2 linked regions of the Homo sapiens genome follow. The protein of the gene in region 1 purifies or fractionates together with the protein of each later gene. This does not show direct contact. Each region holds a gene or a part of one and is shown in the gene's direction. Other genes may lie near its edges.

Evidence for each region.
Region 2: the proteins of ARHGAP39 (region 1) and TANC2 purify together in Homo sapiens (affinity purification with mass spectrometry; 2 studies listed by BioGRID and IntAct, with this or other methods). This does not show direct contact.

Annotation. Positions count from the first base shown.
Region 1 is NC_000008.11:144,542,037-144,551,645, reverse strand, and holds part of ARHGAP39 (rho GTPase-activating protein 39), read left to right. Parts: intron 1-3,156; coding exon 3,157-4,519; intron 4,520-5,835; coding exon 5,836-6,397; intron 6,398-9,609.
Region 2 is NC_000017.11:62,960,799-62,970,894, forward strand, and holds the start of TANC2 (protein TANC2), read left to right. Parts: upstream 1-5,436; 5' UTR 5,437-5,951; intron 5,952-10,096. UniProt on the Homo sapiens protein: Scaffolding protein in the dendritic spines which acts as immobile postsynaptic posts able to recruit KIF1A-driven dense core vesicles to dendritic spines.

The DNA of each region.
Region 1 (9,609 bases):
AGCAGAGCTGCCTACATGGCGGAAGGGTGGGTGGGGCAGGGCAAGAGACCCCTCAAGAGACACTCTGGGCGCCGTGGGGCGTGGTCCTCACCTAGCTGCCACTGTATCTGTGCTGCGTGGCCTGGGGAGAGTGTCTGGGCCTCTCGGGGCTTCCCCATCTGTGACTCGGGTGCCCAGCACAGGCCTCGGCCTGCATTGAGGAGGTGCTTGGCACACACACGTGGCAGTGCCAGCCTCCTCCCCTGGCCAGGCGGGATCATCGGCATGTGGGCAGGTCCTCTGGCCTTCTTACCTTTCTTCATCTCTGCCCCAACTGGGCAGAACCCATGTCCGTTCCTGAGATAGAGCGTGGCATCTGACCAGCAAGCCTTTCACGTGCCCTCACCTCTCCTCATACTCACCCCACCCTCCCGGCCGCCTGCCAGCCCCCCATCCTCCCCCAGCAACCCTAGACGGACAGCAGAAAGGCGCCTCCCTGGGGCCACGACAGGGCACCCTGTGCTGGGACCGTCTGCCAGTCCTTCCCTAGGCCTGGCCCAGGCCTAAGGCAGTATCTGTTAAGTGGTAAAAAGAGTCACAGATATGCAAAACTAATGGTTCGCATTGACCGAGGGTTTTCTGTGTCAGTGCTGAACTCAGGGCCTTACTACATGCACGTTGTTTTGTTGAATCTTCGTCATAACTGAGGAGGAAACTGAGGCAGAAGGATGTTAAGTGAAATCCAAGCCTTGCAGCCACAGAGCAACAGACTGGAGTTCAACCCCCGATCTCCCGAACTCCGGAGCCCTTCACCCCTCAGTGTCCCCAGGCCATGGAGGGGTTGACCCCACAGCTGGCCCTCAGGGTTTGATGGCCCCTGCCACACTGGCTGCCACCATCCACTCTGCCTGGCTAGCCCCTGTTGTCAGGCTGGGAGCAGTCTCCAGCAGCCACGAGCAGAAATCCCAGGAACAGGCACCTGCACTCTGCCCCTGGCTGCTGCCCTGACTTCTCGCCTGGGTGGTGTGGCCGTGCTGAGAGGGCCCACAGCCCAGTGTTCTGGAGCAGGTTGTCCCTGGTCAGGGGGTGCCATGTCTTCCTGGCCTTGCCTCACCAACCCCCCAGGCAATGGGGAATGTGGCCTTGTCCAGAAAGACCCCACATCAATCAGAGGGACACAACTGGCTTATAAAATGTGTGGGGTTTCTACTTTTTTTGTTGTTGTTTGTTTTAGAGATGGGGTCTCACTGTGTTCCCCAGGCTGGTCTCAAACTCCTGGCTTCAAGTGATCCTCCCACCTCAGCCTCCCCAAGTGCTGGGATTACAGATGTGAGCCACCACACCTGGCCAAATTCCTGGGGTTCTTTTTATTTTTATTTATTTACTTTTTTTTAGACAGGGTCTCACTCTGTCACCCAGGCTGGAGAGCAGTGGTGCGATCATGGCTCACTGCAGCTTCGACCTCCCTGAGCTTAAGCGATCCTCCCACCCCAGCTTCCTGAGTAGCTGGGACTACAGGAGCACACCACCATGTTCGGCTAATTGGTTTATGTTTTTGTAGAGATGAGGTCTTGCTCTGTTGCCCAGGCTGGTCTTGAAGCCCTGGGCTCAAGTGATCCTCCTGCCTCAGCCTCCCAATGTCTTTGGATTACAGACGTGAGCCACCATGCCTGGCCATTCCCTATTTTTAAGCTACCTCGTTTGTAGTATTTTGTTATAGAAGCCTGAATGGACTAAGACAATGCGTTTAAAAGCAGATTAAACATAGCTGAATAGAAAAGTAGTAAACTGGAAGGCAGTTGAGAAGAAAATATTCTGAAGTGTGGAGCTGCCAAGCAATGGGAACTGCAGAACACAGCATGAAAACCACGTGGGGCTGGGCGCGGTGGCTCACACCTGTAATCCCAGCACTTTGGGAGGCCGAGGCAGGCGGATCAGGAGGTCAGGAGTTCGGGACCAGCCTGGCCAACACGGTGAAACCCCATCTCTCTAGTAAAAATACAAAAATTAGCTGGGCCTGGTGGCGTGTGCCTGTAATCCCAGCTACTCGGGAGGCTGAGGCAGGAGAATCGCTTGAACTTGGGAGGCAGAGGTTACAGTGAGGCAAGACCGTGCCGCTATACTCCAGCCTGGCGACAGAGCAAGACTCCGTCTCAAAAAAACAAAACAAAACCACGTGGTGTACAGTAAGAAAGACTGCAATTAGATTTCCAGAAGAGAAGAGAGAGGAAACAGGGTAAAAGTAACATTTGGAAATTGTAGAAGACGTCAGGCCGCGGATGTGCAAAGTGCTATGCGTCCCAAATAGCCATACCCGAGTGGCCTCCAGGAGACAGAAGGTGGTGGAGGGGCCCCTCGTCTCTCCCTGGCAGCGTCCTGGGTCCAGCGCCCTGCACAGCAGGCATGGCTGTGGACACAGGACCAGTGCCCACCTTGGGCCGCCAGGGGCAGAGCACGTGTGGGCATTGCGTCTGCATATCTGCCCCGCAGTGCTGCCCAGAGCAGGGTCTCCCTCGTTGCGGATGAGTGAGTGGGACTCATGCACTGAGTTGGGAGGACTGGTGAGGACGCAGACAGCGTGACTCCGGGGACTCTGGTGCCCTTGGCCAGGTGCGGTGTTAGTGGGACACCTGCAGCTGTTGGAGTGAGCGTGGTGACTGGGGCAGGGTCAGAGGAGGACAGTCAGTCTTTCTGGAGCTCACAGGAGCTCCCAGTCGGAGAATGGGGCCGTGGGATTCTGGTGGTGTGCCTTCCTCCTGCTGGGCTCACCTGGACCACTGGGACGGGTCCAACGCCACTGCTCAGCAGGAACACAGGGCCCAGGAGCCTGCCCGGCGGCTCAGGCAGCTCTGGAGACACCCGCACAGCACCCACATTAAGGGCCCTGGTAACGCCGCCCCCGGTTCTAGTTACAGAAGCAGCCCTGTGCCCGGTCAGGAGCTGGGATCAGAGCAGACAGACACCTGGTCGTGGGCGGCAGCTCCAGGAGAGCCCCAGAGGGAGGGCTGGGGGTGCTGGGGCAAGGCAGGTGTGAGGGGCGCCAGGCCACAGGGCCCCAGCGAGGAAGGTGTACAACAGAGGGTTCGCGGGAGCCGCTGCCTACAGCCCCCGAGGGGGTGGGGCGTGCCCAGAAGCAGCAGGCAGGCAGTCACCTGTGCCCGTCCACCCCCCACGCAGGACCTCCTCGCTGCGGTGGAACTCGGGCGCCAAAGAGCGCATGCTCATCAAGGTCGCTGATCGGGAGCCCAGCTTCCTCGCCGCCCAGGGCAATGGCTACGCCCCAGACGGCCCACCTGGGGTCCGCTCCCGCAGACCCTCCGGCAGCCAGCACTCACCCAGCCTGCAGACCTTCGCCCCGGAGGCTGACGGCACCATCTTCTTCCCAGAGAGGAGGCCGTCACCCTTCCTGAAGAGGGCCGAGCTCCCAGGGAGCAGCTCCCCGCTGCTGGCCCAGCCCCGAAAGCCCTCCGGGGACTCGCAGCCCTCCTCCCCGCGCTATGGCTATGAACCCCCGCTCTACGAGGAGCCCCCAGTGGAGTACCAGGCCCCCATCTACGATGAGCCCCCCATGGACGTGCAATTCGAGGCTGGCGGGGGCTACCAGGCCGGCTCTCCCCAGCGGTCGCCGGGCCGTAAGCCCCGGCCGTTCCTCCAGCCCAACAAGCAGGGCCCCCCCTCGCCCTGCCAGCAGCTGGTGCTCACCAAGCAGAAGTGTCCCGAGCGCTTCCTGAGCCTGGAGTACAGTCCCGCCGGCAAGGAGTACGTGCGGCAGCTGGTCTACGTGGAGCAGGCGGGCTCCAGCCCCAAGCTGCGCGCCGGCCCGCGGCACAAGTACGCGCCCAACCCCGGCGGTGGTTCGTACTCCTTGCAGCCCAGCCCCTGCCTGCTGAGGGACCAGCGCCTGGGCGTCAAGTCCGGAGACTACAGCACCATGGAGGGACCTGAGCTGCGGCACAGCCAGCCGCCCACGCCGCTGCCACAGGCCCAGGAGGATGCCATGTCCTGGTCCAGCCAGCAGGACACCCTGTCCTCCACAGGCTACTCCCCGGGCACGCGCAAGCGGAAGAGCAGAAAGCCCTCTTTGTGCCAAGCCACCAGCGCCACCCCCACTGAGGGCCCCGGGGACCTGCTTGTGGAGCAGCCCCTGGCCGAGGAACAGCCCCCGTGCGGGACCAGCCTCGCCCCCGTGAAGCGAGCGGAAGGTGAGGCCGAAGGGGCGCGGGGCGCGGCCGAGCCCTTCCTGGCGCAGGCTCGGCTGGCCTGGGAGGCGCAGCAGGCCCACTTCCACATGAAGCAGAGGAGCAGCTGGGACTCCCAGCAGGACGGCTCTGGCTACGAGAGCGACGGCGCCCTGCCACTGCCCATGCCCGGGCCGGTGGTGCGGGCCTTCAGCGAGGACGAGGCGCTGGCCCAGCAGGAGAACAGGCACTGGAGGAGGGGCACCTTCGAGAAGCTAGGCTTCCCCCAGATCCTGCTGGAGAAGAGCGTCTCCGTGCAGACCAACCTGGCCTCACCAGAGCCCTACCTCCACCCCTCACAGGTGAGGGCCCAATGGGCGCGGCTGAGCTTGAGAGCCTGGGGCCAGCCCAGTCAGAGTGGACCCCGTGGGCCAGGCACAGGAGACCTGGCGTCCAGGGCGTGCACGCAGCACGCAGAGTTCTGAAGCCCCGTGTCTCCGGGGCCCTGGGCACTCCAGCGGGCTGTCAGGGCTCAGCTGGGAGTCCACGAGGAGGCCCCGTGGGGTGTGGGCTGCTGGGCGTTCCCTGGCAGTGCCTTCCTCATCCTGGGGGCACCTGGGAGCTGGAGGCCACACCCTGACTCCAGACACAGAACAGAGAAGGCCTCAGCAGCCTGGGAGGGTGGTGGCCACCGGAGCCGTGGCCTGGGCCCCTGAGGAGCAGGCAGCCAAGGTGTCGGGGGTTCCCTGGTGGTTCTCAAAGCCAGTCCCCGAGGCTCCCTCGGGTAGGAAGAACTGCCGGGAGGACAGAGGCCGCAGGAATTCCGGGATGTTGCGCCCAGCCTGGGGCCTCTGGCACGTTCCCCATCTGGCTCCTGGAGCTGATGGAGGCTAGATCCCGTGGAGGCCACGTGCACCTCTGTCCAGCATCTCCATCCTTGTTCTCACCTCCTTGTTCTCACAGGGTGAGGCAGAGGGCAGGCCTAGCGTCTGAGGACCCGGGAGGGTGGAGGAGGAACACAGGGAGCTTCCTTGGGTGGGGAGACCTCGAGGGCCTGGGTGGCCTTCGTGGTCTCCAGGGTGGAGAACTCAGAGCAGCTTCCGGTCCGTGATTCTGTCCACTTCTCAAGATGCAGGACAAGAGGGCAGAGAGGCCCAGGGTGCATGGACCAGGTTCTCTCAGAGCAGCAGGCAGGGAGGGGCCTCCTGGAGGTCGGCCTGGGGTGAAGGCTGGAGGGAAGGGCCTGGGGTCCCAGCAGTGAAGGGATTGGGAACCAGACAGCACTTTTACCTGGTGTGAACTGCAGCCTTCCGTGCCTGAACAAGGGCACTGACACTTCCTCAGGGGGCGGCAGAATGAGGTCAGCCCCCTGGGGGTGCCAGCGGATGCTCCCCTTCCTCCCGCCTCACCCTCAGCCAGGTCACCTGGGTCACCCATCAGCAGGCTGCCCTGCCACACCCTGGGAGTACAGGGCTCCGGCGTCCCAGCTGCATCTGTGGACGGGCTGGGCTCCCCTGGGCCTCCCACCTCAGACAGCTTTGTGGTGAGCAGGGCAGGGCTCTCACCTGGCTGGCTCTGGTGGGGCCCCAGCTCACACTTCTGGGGACTGTGGCCCAGTGGGCCCACCTGCCTGGCCCTCCCCCACCCCCAACAGCCCAGCCGCATTTGTCCTTCTCAGTCTGAGGACCTCGCTGCCTGTGCCCAGTTCGAGAGCAGCCGGCAGAGCCGCAGCGGCGTTCCCAGCTCCAGCTGCGTCTTCCCCACTTTCACGCTGCGCAAGCCCTCCTCGGAGACGGACATCGAGAACTGGGCCTCCAAGCACTTCAACAAGCACACGCAGGGCCTCTTCCGGCGGAAGGTGTCCATCGCCAACATGCTGGCCTGGAGCAGCGAGTCCATCAAGAAGCCCATGATCGTGACAAGCGACCGGCACGTGAAGAAGGAGGCCTGCGAGCTCTTCAAGCTGATCCAGATGTACATGGGTGACCGGCGGGCCAAGGCCGACCCACTGCACGTGGCCCTGGAGGTGGCCACCAAGGGCTGGAGCGTGCAGGGCCTGCGGGACGAGCTCTACATCCAGCTGTGCCGGCAGACCACCGAGAACTTCCGCCTGGAGAGCCTGGCCCGCGGCTGGGAGCTCATGGCCATCTGCCTGGCCTTTTTCCCGCCCACCCCCAAGTTCCACTCCTACCTGGAAGGCTACATCTACCGGCACATGGACCCCGTCAATGACACTAAAGGTAAGGCCATGCACGGGCTTTGCCACCAGCTCAGGTAAGGGCAGTGGAGAGGGCTCCTGCTGTGCTGGGCGGCAGCTGGTGAAGTCCCTGGCGGCCCTCCACACAGGGCCATGGTTCGACACACACCTCCCAAAACGCCCCACACTCTGGGCCTCTGCTGGATGTGGCCTCTTCCTGGAGCCCCACCTGGGCACTGAGGTGAAGAGCCCCGGAGCCCTGGCAGACACGAGGGCTTGGGGCCTCAATGGCCGCATCCACTCTGCTCCAAGCCCACCATGGCCAGTCCCGCTCCCTGACAAGGGCAGGCACGAAGACGCCGAGGGCGGAGCAGCCGTAGTCAGGCACCTGTGTGCCTGCCGCACTTGCCTTCTGCCATCCGTGACCTAGAGGGCTACCACCCTGGCAAGATCCGGGTTGTCTCTTCTGGGCATGGTCCTGGCAGAAGGCTCCTGTGAGCAGGCAGGAGCTTGATGACTGGCTCACATGCAGGTCACGCAGCACCTGAGCTGCCCCAAAGCTGCCCCATGGGGTCGCACGTCGGAGCCATCATCACATCCTGATGGCTGCCTGGGGCAGCGTGGGAGGCCAGAGTCTGCCCAGGGCTCTCCAAGACGATGCTTCAGGTGTGCTGGGCCCAGGCCATGGTGCCATCCGCCAGACAGCCCCGTGTCTGCAGCAAGCAGCTCTCCACCTCACATCATGGGTATCTACAGGGCACAGCCACAGAACTGATATCCAGAAATGCACGCGCACACACACACACATGCACGCACGCACACACACCCTCCAGGTCAGACATGCCATAGACTGTTCTGTGGCAGTGAGAGCCCACCCTGGTCTGGCCTTTGCCTCTGCAGAGATTGAGCCCCTGGTCAGGGCCTTGCTGGGCCTTACCCCTATTACCCCCAGCCCAGGTGTGGAGGAGGTGGCTCCCAAGCTGCTGTGGGCACACAGAGGCAGGGTGGAGGCCACAGGGCAGTGGGAGGTTCCTGGGGACAGTGTTGGGTATAGGCACCACCCAGCCCATCAGCTGTTTGTGGGGAGATTTTGGAAGCCATGCAGTTTCACCCGACTTTTCAACACAAGATCACAGCAGAGGCAGAGTTTGGCAGGTGGCCGGGGCTCCAGGTGTGCAGAGGAGGACCAGAGCAGGGTGCCAGGCAGACTGGGCTGGCCTGTGAAGCCCAGTCCCTGGTCTTGGGCCCTTCAAGAAGCAGGTGGAATTCTAGGGGCTGTGTTCCTCTTGGCATCATAGTTCACCTCCTCTTCCTCTTCCAGAGGGGCCTGGGAATGTCGTGCCTGAGCTGGAGGCTATGGAGCTGAGCCCCCACTGCTCAGCACAGCATGCAGCCCACAGTGGGTACCCCCGAGAGTAGGCAAGTGAGGGCCAGAAGACAGCCAGACAAAGGCCTGAGGTTTCTTGGGCCCATCTTGGGCCAGCTGCCTAGCCAATGTGTGGCTGGGCTGTTTCTGCTGTATGTAAGTAGAGGCTGTGGCTTCCTAGGGGAGTGTGTGCTCCAGGCTGCTGCCCTTCACACTTAGGCTCGTGTGCCTTTGTCCTTGTGCCTTACACCTGTGGGGTCCTGGCCTGCATGGAAAAAGGAATCAGGCTTCAGCCTGGGCGGCCGTGGCTTCAGAGCTCTGCCAAAGAAGGCCCATGAAGGCCAACAGCACCGTCTGGGTTGGAGTGACAGCGGGGCTGGGGCTCTGTGCAGTCCCACTGGCAGGTAGCCTGCATCTTGGCTGTGGTACTGTGGCCACCCTCACAGCCAGAACCTCATCTCCAGCCCCAGGATCCACTCCTAGGTTCGTCTGTCAGGGTCCCTGATTGGCCCTGAGCCCAGAAGAGAGGCCTCTACATACACAGTGGCCATTCCTTCCCAAATGAGCCTCACACCCCCTCCAGCCAGCCTCCTGTGCCTAGGAGGTGTCCCTTTCACATGCAGGTGCTGGCTGCTGCTCAGAAAGACAGGCCCAGCCAGGCACAGTGGCTCACACCTGGAATCCCAGCACTCTGGGCCAAGGCAAGAGGATCCCTTGAGCCTGGGAGTTTGAGACCAGCCTGGGCAACAAAGTGAGACCCTGTCTTTATGAAAAATTTTAAAAAGGAAATTAGCCAAGCATGGTGGTGTATGCTTGTGGTCCCAACTACTTGGGAGGCTGAGGCAGGAGGATTGCTTGAGCCCAGGAGGTTAAGTCTGCAGTGAGTCATGATCGTACCACTGCACTCCTGCACTCCAGCCTGGGCAACAGAGCAAGACCCCCAGCCTGGGCAACAGAGCAAGACCCCCCTTTTTTTTTGGAGTTAGAGTCTCGCTCTGTTGCCCAGGCTGGAGTTCAGGAGTGCAGTGGTGCAATCATGACTCACTGCAACCTCTGCCTCCTGGGTTCAAGCGATTGTCCTGCCTCAGCCTCCCGTGTAGCAGGGACCACAGGTGCGCGCCACCATACCCAGCTAGTTTTTGTATTTTTAGTAGAGACGGGGTTTCACCACGTTGGCCAGGATGGTCTCAAACTGCTGACCTGAGTTGATCCACCCACCTGAGTTTCCCAAAGTGCTGGGATTAGAGGCGTGAGCCATTGTGCCCGGCCAAGACTCCGTCGAAGTGGGGGTGGGGGGGCGGGTAGGAAAAAGAAAGAAAGAAAAGCAGGAAGGAAGAGAAGAGAAAGGAAAGAAAGACAGGCCCTATCAGCCGAGGAGGATGTCGGATATAGCCTGTACTGTGGAGGGCCAGCTAGGCTGCAGCACAGTTCTTAGAAAAAGGAAACTGTAGCCTAGGGACCCTCGGTGAGGAGCAGAGCTGAGCCTGGTGCGTCGCCCTGAGCACCCTGCCTGCCTCAGCCTCAGGAGCCTTTGACTCATCGGCCAGCACCTGCGTGACCTGCACTGTGTGGTCACCACCCTCGGGGACTGAGGCCCCACGAGGTGATGCCCCCAGCTTAGCCTTGTCTCATGGGTGCTCACACCTTTCACACCAGCAGGGGGTCTCCTGGCTGGTCCCCAGGACCTCCCTCAACAGGTTCTCGACACAGACATCGAGGAGCACCTGGCAGTGGGTATGGTAGCCTCCAGCTCTCCCACCTGCTCCACTTCTGTGTATTTTGGAAGGCTGGAGACTCCTAAAGGTTTCATTCACTGCTCGCTTCTTCATGCATCCAACAAGGTCTCCCGGCTTCCAGCTCAAGATGGCGGATTGAACATGGGCATTTGC
Region 2 (10,096 bases), on another chromosome or scaffold:
AGTCTAGAAGACTGGAGTATCAGTGACAGAGCAGGGGAGTCAGAAGGGCTGCTTTGGGAGAGAAGAATGAGAGATGGTTTTGGCATATTTTGTATTTGTAGTAGCTCTTTGCTACTTTTGAGTTACAAATCCCTTCCTTTGAGAATCTAATGGAACCAATGGATTCCCTCTTCAGAAAAAATAAATGCATTCATACTTAAACACATGTTGCACAATTTATAATGTACACCCCTGGAATTGGCTGCAAGAGAGCTCTTGATCCAAGCTGGGCCAATCAGAGCCCTTCCTGGAATTTTTGTACTCTATATCCAGAGAATCAAGTCAGTCTCTCCTTACTAGCTAAATCTGTGAATGCTGTTAGCTGATGTATTTTACAACACATGAGCCTGAGAAACAGAGAAAATGCTCAAATGTAGAATGAGAAGAGAGAGAGAGCCTAATACAAAAGGTCAGAAATGAGAGAGAGAACGTGTCCTAATGGCAGCTGAGTTCATGTCTTTATTAAGAAAGCAACTCATCTTTAAAAGAGATCCATTCTTTGACTTAAGAGGTTGTCGTATTCATTCCCTCCTCTGGACTTTCGTTGAGCTCTCAGGGCCCTTCCTTCCTTCTTTCCAACCATTTCTTTTTTCTATTCTGCTTTTCTCAAGAAGCAGTTCTATACCATCCCAGTCAAACTTGTATCCCTCCTTCTTGTAATTAATTACAGAACTTGCTGTTTTATTCATGTTCAGACTTAATTCTATAATATGCTATATTATATATTTAAATGTTTTAAGCATTCTGTTTCTCAAATAGATTATGACAGTTAAGTAGGCAAGACTTTCCTCAAATCAATTCTATATGCCCTATGGCACTTATCACAGCTATATACGAACAGTAGGTGCAAATACTTGTCAAACATTTATAAATGTCAATGTAAAAATATATGAGCATTTGTTTATTCACATTTTACATGCATTTTTCATTTTACAAAAAAGGGATTTACTAGAAACTTCTTTTAAGTAGTAGCTCCTCTATGTGGAAATGTTTTTAAGTGTTCATCTAGAAATATTAAATATTCATCAAAAGGCTGAGGTAGAGTTGGTGGGGAAAATGTTGAAGCTATTGGGTAAGTCATTAATTACAGATCAACAAGAAATGAGATTATGAAAAACAATCAATGACAAAAATCTCATTTACATCAACCTTTCAGAAATGCTTCCATTGTGTGACATGGCTCACTTTTTTTTTTTTTAGTGGGGGGTCTTACTCTGTTGCCCCAGCTGGAGTGCAGTGGTGCAATTATAGCTCACTGTGGCCTCGAACTCCTGGCCTCAAGTGATCCTCCTGTCTCAGTCTTCTGAGACTCTGGGATTACAGGCATGAGCAACTGGCAACCCACATTTAAAAAATATGTAATCTTTGTTCTCCTTTACACTTTATATGGCAATCTCCTCAGGGTAACTGATAGAGAATAAAGTTTATGTCTAGGTTCAGTTTTTGGCTCTACGCATCATTCAGTGTAAAATTGGGCTGGTTATTTAACCTCTCAGAACCCCCCTCATCCAAAAAATTAAGATAATACTTATCTGATAGGATGTTGTGGGAATTAAATGAGGTTGTGCATATAAAGTAGCTGGTGAAATATTTGCTGCCAGTAGGTGATCACTCAGTGGTGGGTGGTATGACTTTTTATTTAGGGAGAGAGAGTTGAGGGAAAAGGGTAGAAAAAGGTGAACCTGATGGTTTACTTAAGAGACATAGAGGGCTGGGCACAGTGGCTCATGCCTGTAATCCCAGCACTTTGGGAGGCTGAGGCAGGCGGATTGCTTGAGCCCAGGAGTTCGAGACCAGCCTGGGCAACATAGCGAGACTCCATCTCTATAACAATATAAAAAATTAGCTGGGCATGGTGACATGCACCTTTGGTCTCAGCTACTCAGGGGGCTGATGTGGAAAGGTCACCTGAGTCTGAGAAATAGAGGCTGCAGTGAGCCATGATGGTGCCACTGCACTCCAGCCTGAGTGATGAGGGTGAGACCCTGTGTCAAAAAAGAAGGAAAGAAAGAAAGGAAGGAAGAGAAGGAAAGAAAGAAAGAAAGAAAGAAAGAAAGAAAGAAAGAAAGAAAGAAAGAAAGAAAGAGAGACTTAGAGGTAGCCAGGGAAGACACCATATGCAGAGGTGGGTGATAGTGCAGAGTTGAAAGGGCAAGAAAGGGCATTTTGAATGATACAGATGATGCTAAAATGTTGGGAGGTATAGGGCAAGGATGGGCTACATTATGAACAATTATTTGCAGGTTCTTATTACACGGCATACGTTACATTTCCAAATTTAAGTTATAGACTAACATCTTTACTAGAATGGATTTTTAGTAGGTAATAAAATTAGTATTCTCAGGATTTCAGGTAATAGTGACAGAAAAGGGAATCAGGGAGAGGAGTTGAGAACAGAGGTGGCTTCTTGCTGCAATGTTGCTCTCTGTCCCTACTATACCCCACTCACAACTCTGTCAGGGACATATTGTTTCCTCCTCAAAGTTAGAGTGTGGCAACAAATTATAAGACTGGACAGTAGAACGACCTGGAAGAGAATTGGCAGAATAGAAGGATGGTGGATGATCAAAAGAGCGAAGCAGTGAGTTCATTCCTGGACACTGCCCACATGAAAATGGGATTTGGGAAAGGTTGGCTAAAAGAAGTGGTGACTGATCTTTGGAAGTATGGTGAGGACAGTGAGTCAGAGTTACTCACTTTATCAGCGCAGGGGACCATGTGGGTTACAGCTATCAGATCTTACTGTGGGTAAATCCAATAAAGAGCTCTGTTGCTAAAATTGAACAATTACAGTGTTTTTCTAATTTCCAGGAAAAATGGGTTTAAAGGTTTTCATTTTGTGAATTATTATTAATTTTTTGGTACTTCCTACCTTGTAAAAAAGTTGCAAATAAATTTAAAGAGAAAAACACAGACATATTATTTCTTAAAAACACATTATTTTTTGGCTGGACACAGTGGTTCACGCCTGTAATCCTGGCACTTTTGGAGGCCAAGTTGGGTGGATCACATGAGGTCAAGAGTTCGAGACCAGCCTGGTCAACATGGCAAAACCCCATCTGTACCTAAAATACAAAAATTAGCCAGGGGTGGTGGTGTGTGCTTGTAATCCCAGCTACTTGGGAAGGAGGCTGAGGCACAAAAATCGCTTGAACTCGGGAGGCGGAGGTTGCAGTGAGCCGAGATGGCACCACTGCACTCCAGCCTGGGTGACAGGTCGAGACTCTATCTCAAAAAAAAAGAACAACAACAACAACAAAAAGCCCCCATTTTTTTATTATGTGATTATGTGGAGATTTGCATAACCATAAAATTGCCAGATTTAGTGCTTGTAAAATTGTGTCAATTCCATATGGCAGAGTTAAATCTATCTGTATTTCATGATGCTCCACGTTGAGCACCATAATTTCTAGAGACTGCCACCTGAACTAGTTTGAAAACCAACATTACACCCCTGACTGCCTTTTGTTATTTCTCAGAGAAGGAATGTTATTAGCCTCAGTGGAACTCGCAGGGAAAGGCTTAGATAGAAAGTAATCTTAAAAAAAAAAAAAAAAAAGACCGAAGGAGAATTAAATAGGGTAAATTCAAGTGTAAGAAGGATAACATAATAGCTCCTGTTTCCTGAGTCCTTATTGTGTAACAGGATTTGTGCTAAGTATTTTCCAAAATTTTGTTTCATCTTTACATCCATCTGTGAGGTAAGTATTAATATCACCCACGTTAGACAGATGAAGAAAGGAAGGTCCGGAGACCTGTTCAAGGTCACACAGCAGGTAAGTGTTGGGTGACACTGAGATTCAAACTGAGGTTTTCCGACTGCAGTGATGATGACATTGTAATGCTTCTTTGTGTGTATGTGATTTTAAAAAACTGACATGAAGTGCACAGATCTTTTTGCATATGTATACACCCGGGTAACCATTAAGATATTGAATATTTCCAGCAAACCAGAAGGCTCTCTCCTGTCCCCTCTCAATCAATTCCCCTGTAAGTAATCACTACCTTGCCTCTAATACCATAGGTAGATGGGTTTTCATTAGATTAATCTAACTTTCTGGAGTTAACACCAAAAGATTCCATATGTCAGCCCTTCACCTTGCCATGTTAGCTGTATTATTCAAAGCTGCTCTAGCTCTGACTTTGCAAGCATTCACTGTAAAGAAGAGCTGTTGGATGGACATGTTCATATCCAGTTTCTTGTATTGTTCTGAAATTAATACTAATTTTTGAAAATCGAAGAAACTCCTGGATGAAGTGCTACAGGATGGGGCAGATTAAAGTGCTGTTATCAAACAAACCTCTCTACCTTGGAAGCGCCACAGACAGAGCTTCCTTGATTGATGTAATTTGGCGCATCTATTTCCAATCATGTCATCTGATTAAGAAGTTGGATGACCACGAAAGGTCATCTCAGTTTATGGAAGGGAAGGCGAGCCGGGCAGAGTTGGTAACGGTGATTGCTTCGCATCATCTTGCAGCACGCGATGATGTTTATGTCCCAAATACCTCCCACAGCCGACTTGCTGTTTTATGATAGGAGGGAAACAGTAGAGGGGAAGAAGATCTAGGTGGAGGGTGAAATATGACCTAACATCGTTCGACGAGGTATTAATGTGGTGGCTTTCCCGCCCTTGTCGACCAGCTCTTAAAACCACGCTACTTCTTAGTCAACCTGGCAGTGACAGAAGCAGCGCCACGACTTTACCTCAGGTTTGCAAGCTGTGGTTGGTGAATTTTCAGCCATTATTCTAAATAACAGTCTCGGTCTCCCCACAAACCCCACTGTTGTTTTGTTTTTCTTTCTCATTCTGATTCTCCCCACAGCCAACCGTGGCCTTTTGAAGTCGTCTACAAACTACCACTGAGAATCCGGGAAAGAATAACTGACACTTGTAGGCTTCGAGGACTCTCAGAGTGATATGTGCCTGAGGTGACCGAAGTGGGGGAGATCTAGGAGAGCATTCCGGTCATCAAAGCAGGAGGACAGGCCCTGAAATGGGCGCACGTGACAGCAGCAGCCACCTCGAGAGTGACATCACCCCTGAGGGCGGAGCCCAACTATGTAGGGCCTTGTCAGTTACCGAGCGTCCTCCCTGCTGCCCCTCCAAATGCCACCCACAAGTCCGAGCCCCCCGGGGATACGAGAAATGCCAGGACATCCCAGAGCGCCAGAGCCAGGGCCCCGTCTCTCCGCGCGGAGGAGGGCTGCGTCCCCACTCCCTCTTCCAGCCGTTCCCCACCCCCAAACTGTGGAAGGGGCGGGGGCGCGCGCGCTCCACCACGCACGCGCCCCCACGCACGCGCGCTCCCTCCGCGCTCGCGCCCCTCCCCACCCCAGCCCGGAGGGGGCGGGGCTGCGGGCGGCCTCAGAGGGTGCGACGCCCCCAGCGCGGCGGCGGCGCTAGCGAGCGGCCGGCGGGGCGCGGGTTGCTGGGCGCGCTGCTCCGGCGGGGCCCGCTGGCACAGCCGCCTCGCGCGAGCCGCCCGCCCGGCGGGGGAAGCTGCGAGCGCTCCGAGCGCCCGGCCTAGGGCCGCTGGCGCTGCCCTCCCGCCGCCACCGCCCTCCGCGCCTCCTTCGGGCGGCCCCGCCCCCATTCCCATCCCCCTCGCGCTCACCTCCCGGCTGTGCCGCGCGCTAGGCGGAGCGAGGCGCCCGCCGCCGCCGAGCCGAGCCGAGGGGCGAGAGCTGGCCCCCGAGCCGCCGCTGACAGGAGCACCGCCGCGGGCTGCGCTCGCCGGCTGCGAGGCCCCGCCGCGCCGTTCCGGGGTGCAGACTCGCCGCGGGGCGTTGGAGGACTGCGAGGTGCTCCGGGAATCGCGGGCGGCGCCGGCGGGCGGCGCGGTCCTCACAGGAGACCCCGGGGACTGGGGCTTGACCCGGAGGTGCAGAGAGCCCCTCAGAGCGGCAGGTAAGGGGCCCGGGGAGCAGGGCGAGGAAAGGTCGCTTCAGTGACAGGGTCGTTCGCCTCCACAGCCTCGGCTCCGGGGAGAGGGGCGGGGGCGAGCGGGGAGACGGCGAAATGGGCAGCGAAGTGCCTCGGTGTCCAAGGCGTGGGGAAGGCTGGCTCCGAATATGACACCAAGGCGGGCTTCAGAGGCGTGTGGGGTCGCCACTTGGCTGTCACCGAAGATGTCATGGAATTTGGTACCTAGAGCGTCTCTGGATGACGGGGACCAAGGATAAGATGCGAGGCGGATTGCTAAACGTGGCAGGGAATGTGGTGCAGAACGAGTTGCAAAATGTGCCCCCAGAATGCAGCATAAAAGTAGTTGCGAAATGTGCCAGGTAAGGCACAGGATGGGCTGGCCTCTGTGGCGTTGAAATTCATGGTCGAAGTGTTATTAGCGATATTAATAATTCCTCTGGGAAAGGAGGTGTAGCATAATAAAAGATTAATAAGGCTCATTGCTAGATATTTTGCCATAGGAAATCGGGAGGAGCTATGATAAGCTATTTTTTTTGAGGTAGAGAAAGTAACCACGTGAAAGAAAAAAAGCAAATTGTGTCTGGCTGTGAGATTGGAAAGAAAAAATAGGGCTAAAATAATTCCAGGTTTTGCCATCAGCGTGTAGAGCATTGGTACAATTGTATCCAGTCTTCATTTCCAGGTGTGGAATGTTTAGAATGGTCTTCACAAAACATAAACAATGATAATTAACATTAGGAAGAAGATTTGGTGTTTCGGGTGTCTTTCACTCTCTTCTCTGCTCCTCTCCAGGAAAAGAAACAAACAAAACCCCAAACGTCTTGACCATAATTATGAGTTAAAGATCATTAGGCAAAGGGAAGTATTTTTCGTATGTGCCCTTTTCCTGATTTTTACACAGGTGAAAATATCTGTAATGAGGAAAACAAAGCAGTGTGGTGAACAAAAGGGATAGATTTTCAGGCATTTTGAGGGGTTGGAGCCAGTATCTATCACAATGGTTAATTATAGAGAACGGCAGTACTAAAATATTCTTGTATGTTCTTGGTGTTGGGATGGTGAAATAAAAAAAAAAAAGAATACAGTAAATTGGCATAAAAAGCAACAACATGGATACTGTCAGTGGAGTGCTTCTTGCAGCATTTCCCAGGTAGATCCTCTTAGGGATGTGAGCACGAAATAAAACGTTAAACATTCTCTTTCTCCCTCTCTCTTGCTCCCCTCTGTATCTAGATATTTATTTATGTCTCTATATAGATATATGTGCATGTATATTATACATACATAAGAAATTACCAACATGCTGCAAAACATTGTGACTTCCATTTAAGAACATCTGTTTCGAGAGGATTGTCAGAACATAGCTGGAATTTCAGAAGTAACAAAAGACAACTCCATGATCTATTTAATGTAACTTATATGTATACATACAATGAGTGTGAATATACTATATAACAAAAGCAGAAATATGGAAATGTGTTCGTTAGAATGTACTTAATTATTGATGAGATTTTAATGTTTTATGTTATAATTCTTGTAAAGAAATTAAATTACATGTGTGAATGCTGTTCTCATTATAGTAATTTGCCAGATAATCTGAAAATTCATACTGATTGGCTTTCCCTTAGATCCAAATTCAGCCATTGAGGGATCATTTGCTTCAAAGACAAAAATAGATTTTCCTTGGTGATTGATTTTGGGTTTTAGTCTTTTCTGTAGATATGTCCCTTACCTTGAGAAGCTGTTGGGGCTGAAGAACAGAGGAAAGGGCCAGAGGAGAATAAAGAGAATTCTGTTGGGTCTTCCTGTTTTGTTCTGACTGTAAGCCATATGTACTGCCACCCCCTACTGTCTGTAGGAAGAGGTGTTACAGAGCCCGATTCTTTTCTTGTTATCACTGCCCCCTTGTGTAAGGGAAGAAATTGATAGTTGCGCTCGGGGAACCAGTCCTCTCAGATTGTTCTTGATAGAGTATTATGTAGATCTGTGAATCACCTATTTTCTTCAGAGTTGAAGGGCTTTAAACTTACTGTTAATCAGGCCTCAGATTTGGTGTCTATTTTAAATATAGGTAGCATTTGATGTTAGGAATTCAGATTGCTTAAGAATGTTTTTGGTACTTTCAGGAAGAGGGTGCAATACAATTACTACTACATTCTTCCCTTATTGTATGCAGGGGATTGGTTCCAGGACCCCCACATATGCCAAAATCCTTGCATGCTCAAATCCCGCAGTTGGTGTATGGAACCATGTATAGGGAAAAGTCGGCCCTCAATATACTCGGTTTTTGCATCCCATGAATACTGTATTGCTTGAAAAAAATCTGCATAGGAGTAGACCAGCACAGTTTAAGCCCATGTTGTTCAAGGGCCAGCTGTACTAGTAGTAACAGCTCACATTTATGTAGCACCTATTCTTTGCCAGTCCCGTTGTACGTTGTTTTAATCAGTTCCAACACCCTATGAGGTATGTGTTGTTATTTCTGTTTTACAGATGAGAATCTGAAACACAGAGAGGTTAAATAACTTGCCCAATACTATATAGCTGAGAAGTAGAAGAGCTAAGTTTCCATTTAGGAATGCTAGCTCCAGAACCTGTGCTCCTCATCAATATGCTATATTGCCCTCTCACTCAAGGTAGTATTGGCAAGGCATAATTAAAATGCATGTGCCCATCATAAAGCAAGTACAATAGATGTGGATAAACCTGGACAACTCACATAGATGTTAAGTCTGCATATATACAAAAGATACAGTTATTTGCAGTGTGAACATTTCTCTTTAGGAATTTGTTTTTTAACTTATTTCTGGGATTATGCGTAGAGGAGTATTAGTACTTTTTATGTGGTTAAGGAAATATTTGTGATGGTGGTTGGTTTGAAGGGAACTTCAGAGGTAAAAAGTTAATTTCAAGTAGTTTAATATAGTGTGTGTGTGTGTGTGTGTATATAAATACACATTCATACACACACACACAGCCTTTTTAAGAGCACCAGTAAACCTTTACTGCTTATTTTCTGTAGGGAAATTAAGGATAAATTACAATATTTTTCTTCCTACTCATATTTTTATGACCTCTTTTTCATTTATATTAAAAACTACCATAATTAGCACAAATGGATTAGATGCCTATGTACATTTTACCTCTAATGTCAACAAATGTTTGTTCAGATTTTTCTCACACTTAAACATTGTTTTATAAGATATTGACCACATATGACAAAGTATTTATAAAAATGTGTAAAATATAAAGACTTCACAATGCAGCCAACACTTACATGCCTTTTACCCAGTTTAAGAAATGGAACATCATCTTTCACAATTATAATAGTTATTTTCTTCTCTTAGCCAAATTGCTTCTGCCATTCTTTTTCAACAGAAACCTTTCCTTATTGTGCTGCGAATTGCATATCTCATGTAACCAAACACTTCCCTTTTTATATACATTTGTTGATATGGGAATTCAATATAATCTACTGCTTATGGCTAAAACTTATTCAGCATATATGCTTACGTAATTTAATATATTTAATAAATTGTCATACACTCAGACTATGCTTTGTATTTGTATTGGTTACTGGTTGGTAGTTCATTTTAGCATACTTCACTTGTAAAACTTAATTTGGTTTGCAAATTAGGATTTTACTAACATTGTTAAACATTAATAGATTATTTCCCTCTTCCATCATGAATTCTTGACTGTCCCACGCTAGCTCTGTTTTTTCTTCTTTTCCCCATAACTGCCTTTGCTCTTTATTTCTTAAGTGAGTATGAATTATTTTGAATGGAGAGGGAAGGAGACCCTAGAAAGGAGTATACTAATCCAGTCATTTCAAAGGGGACTATTAGGGTAGTTGGTACTGATTGAATATATGGTAGAACAAGTGTGCATAAAAGAAATGCATGAAAATCCTCTCCTTGTCATATTTCTTCCTTTTACAGTAGAATTAAAATGAGATCTGAGACACTCTGATTGGGCACACTAGCTGAATATTGTTGGATTGAACTTACCCAGAATCACCAATGTTAGCTGGGATATTTTTGCTGACAGTACAATATGCAGATTTTAATTCAGGGAGCTAGAACAAGCTGTTGCAGAGGGCTGTTTACTCTTCTAGTACTAGTCTA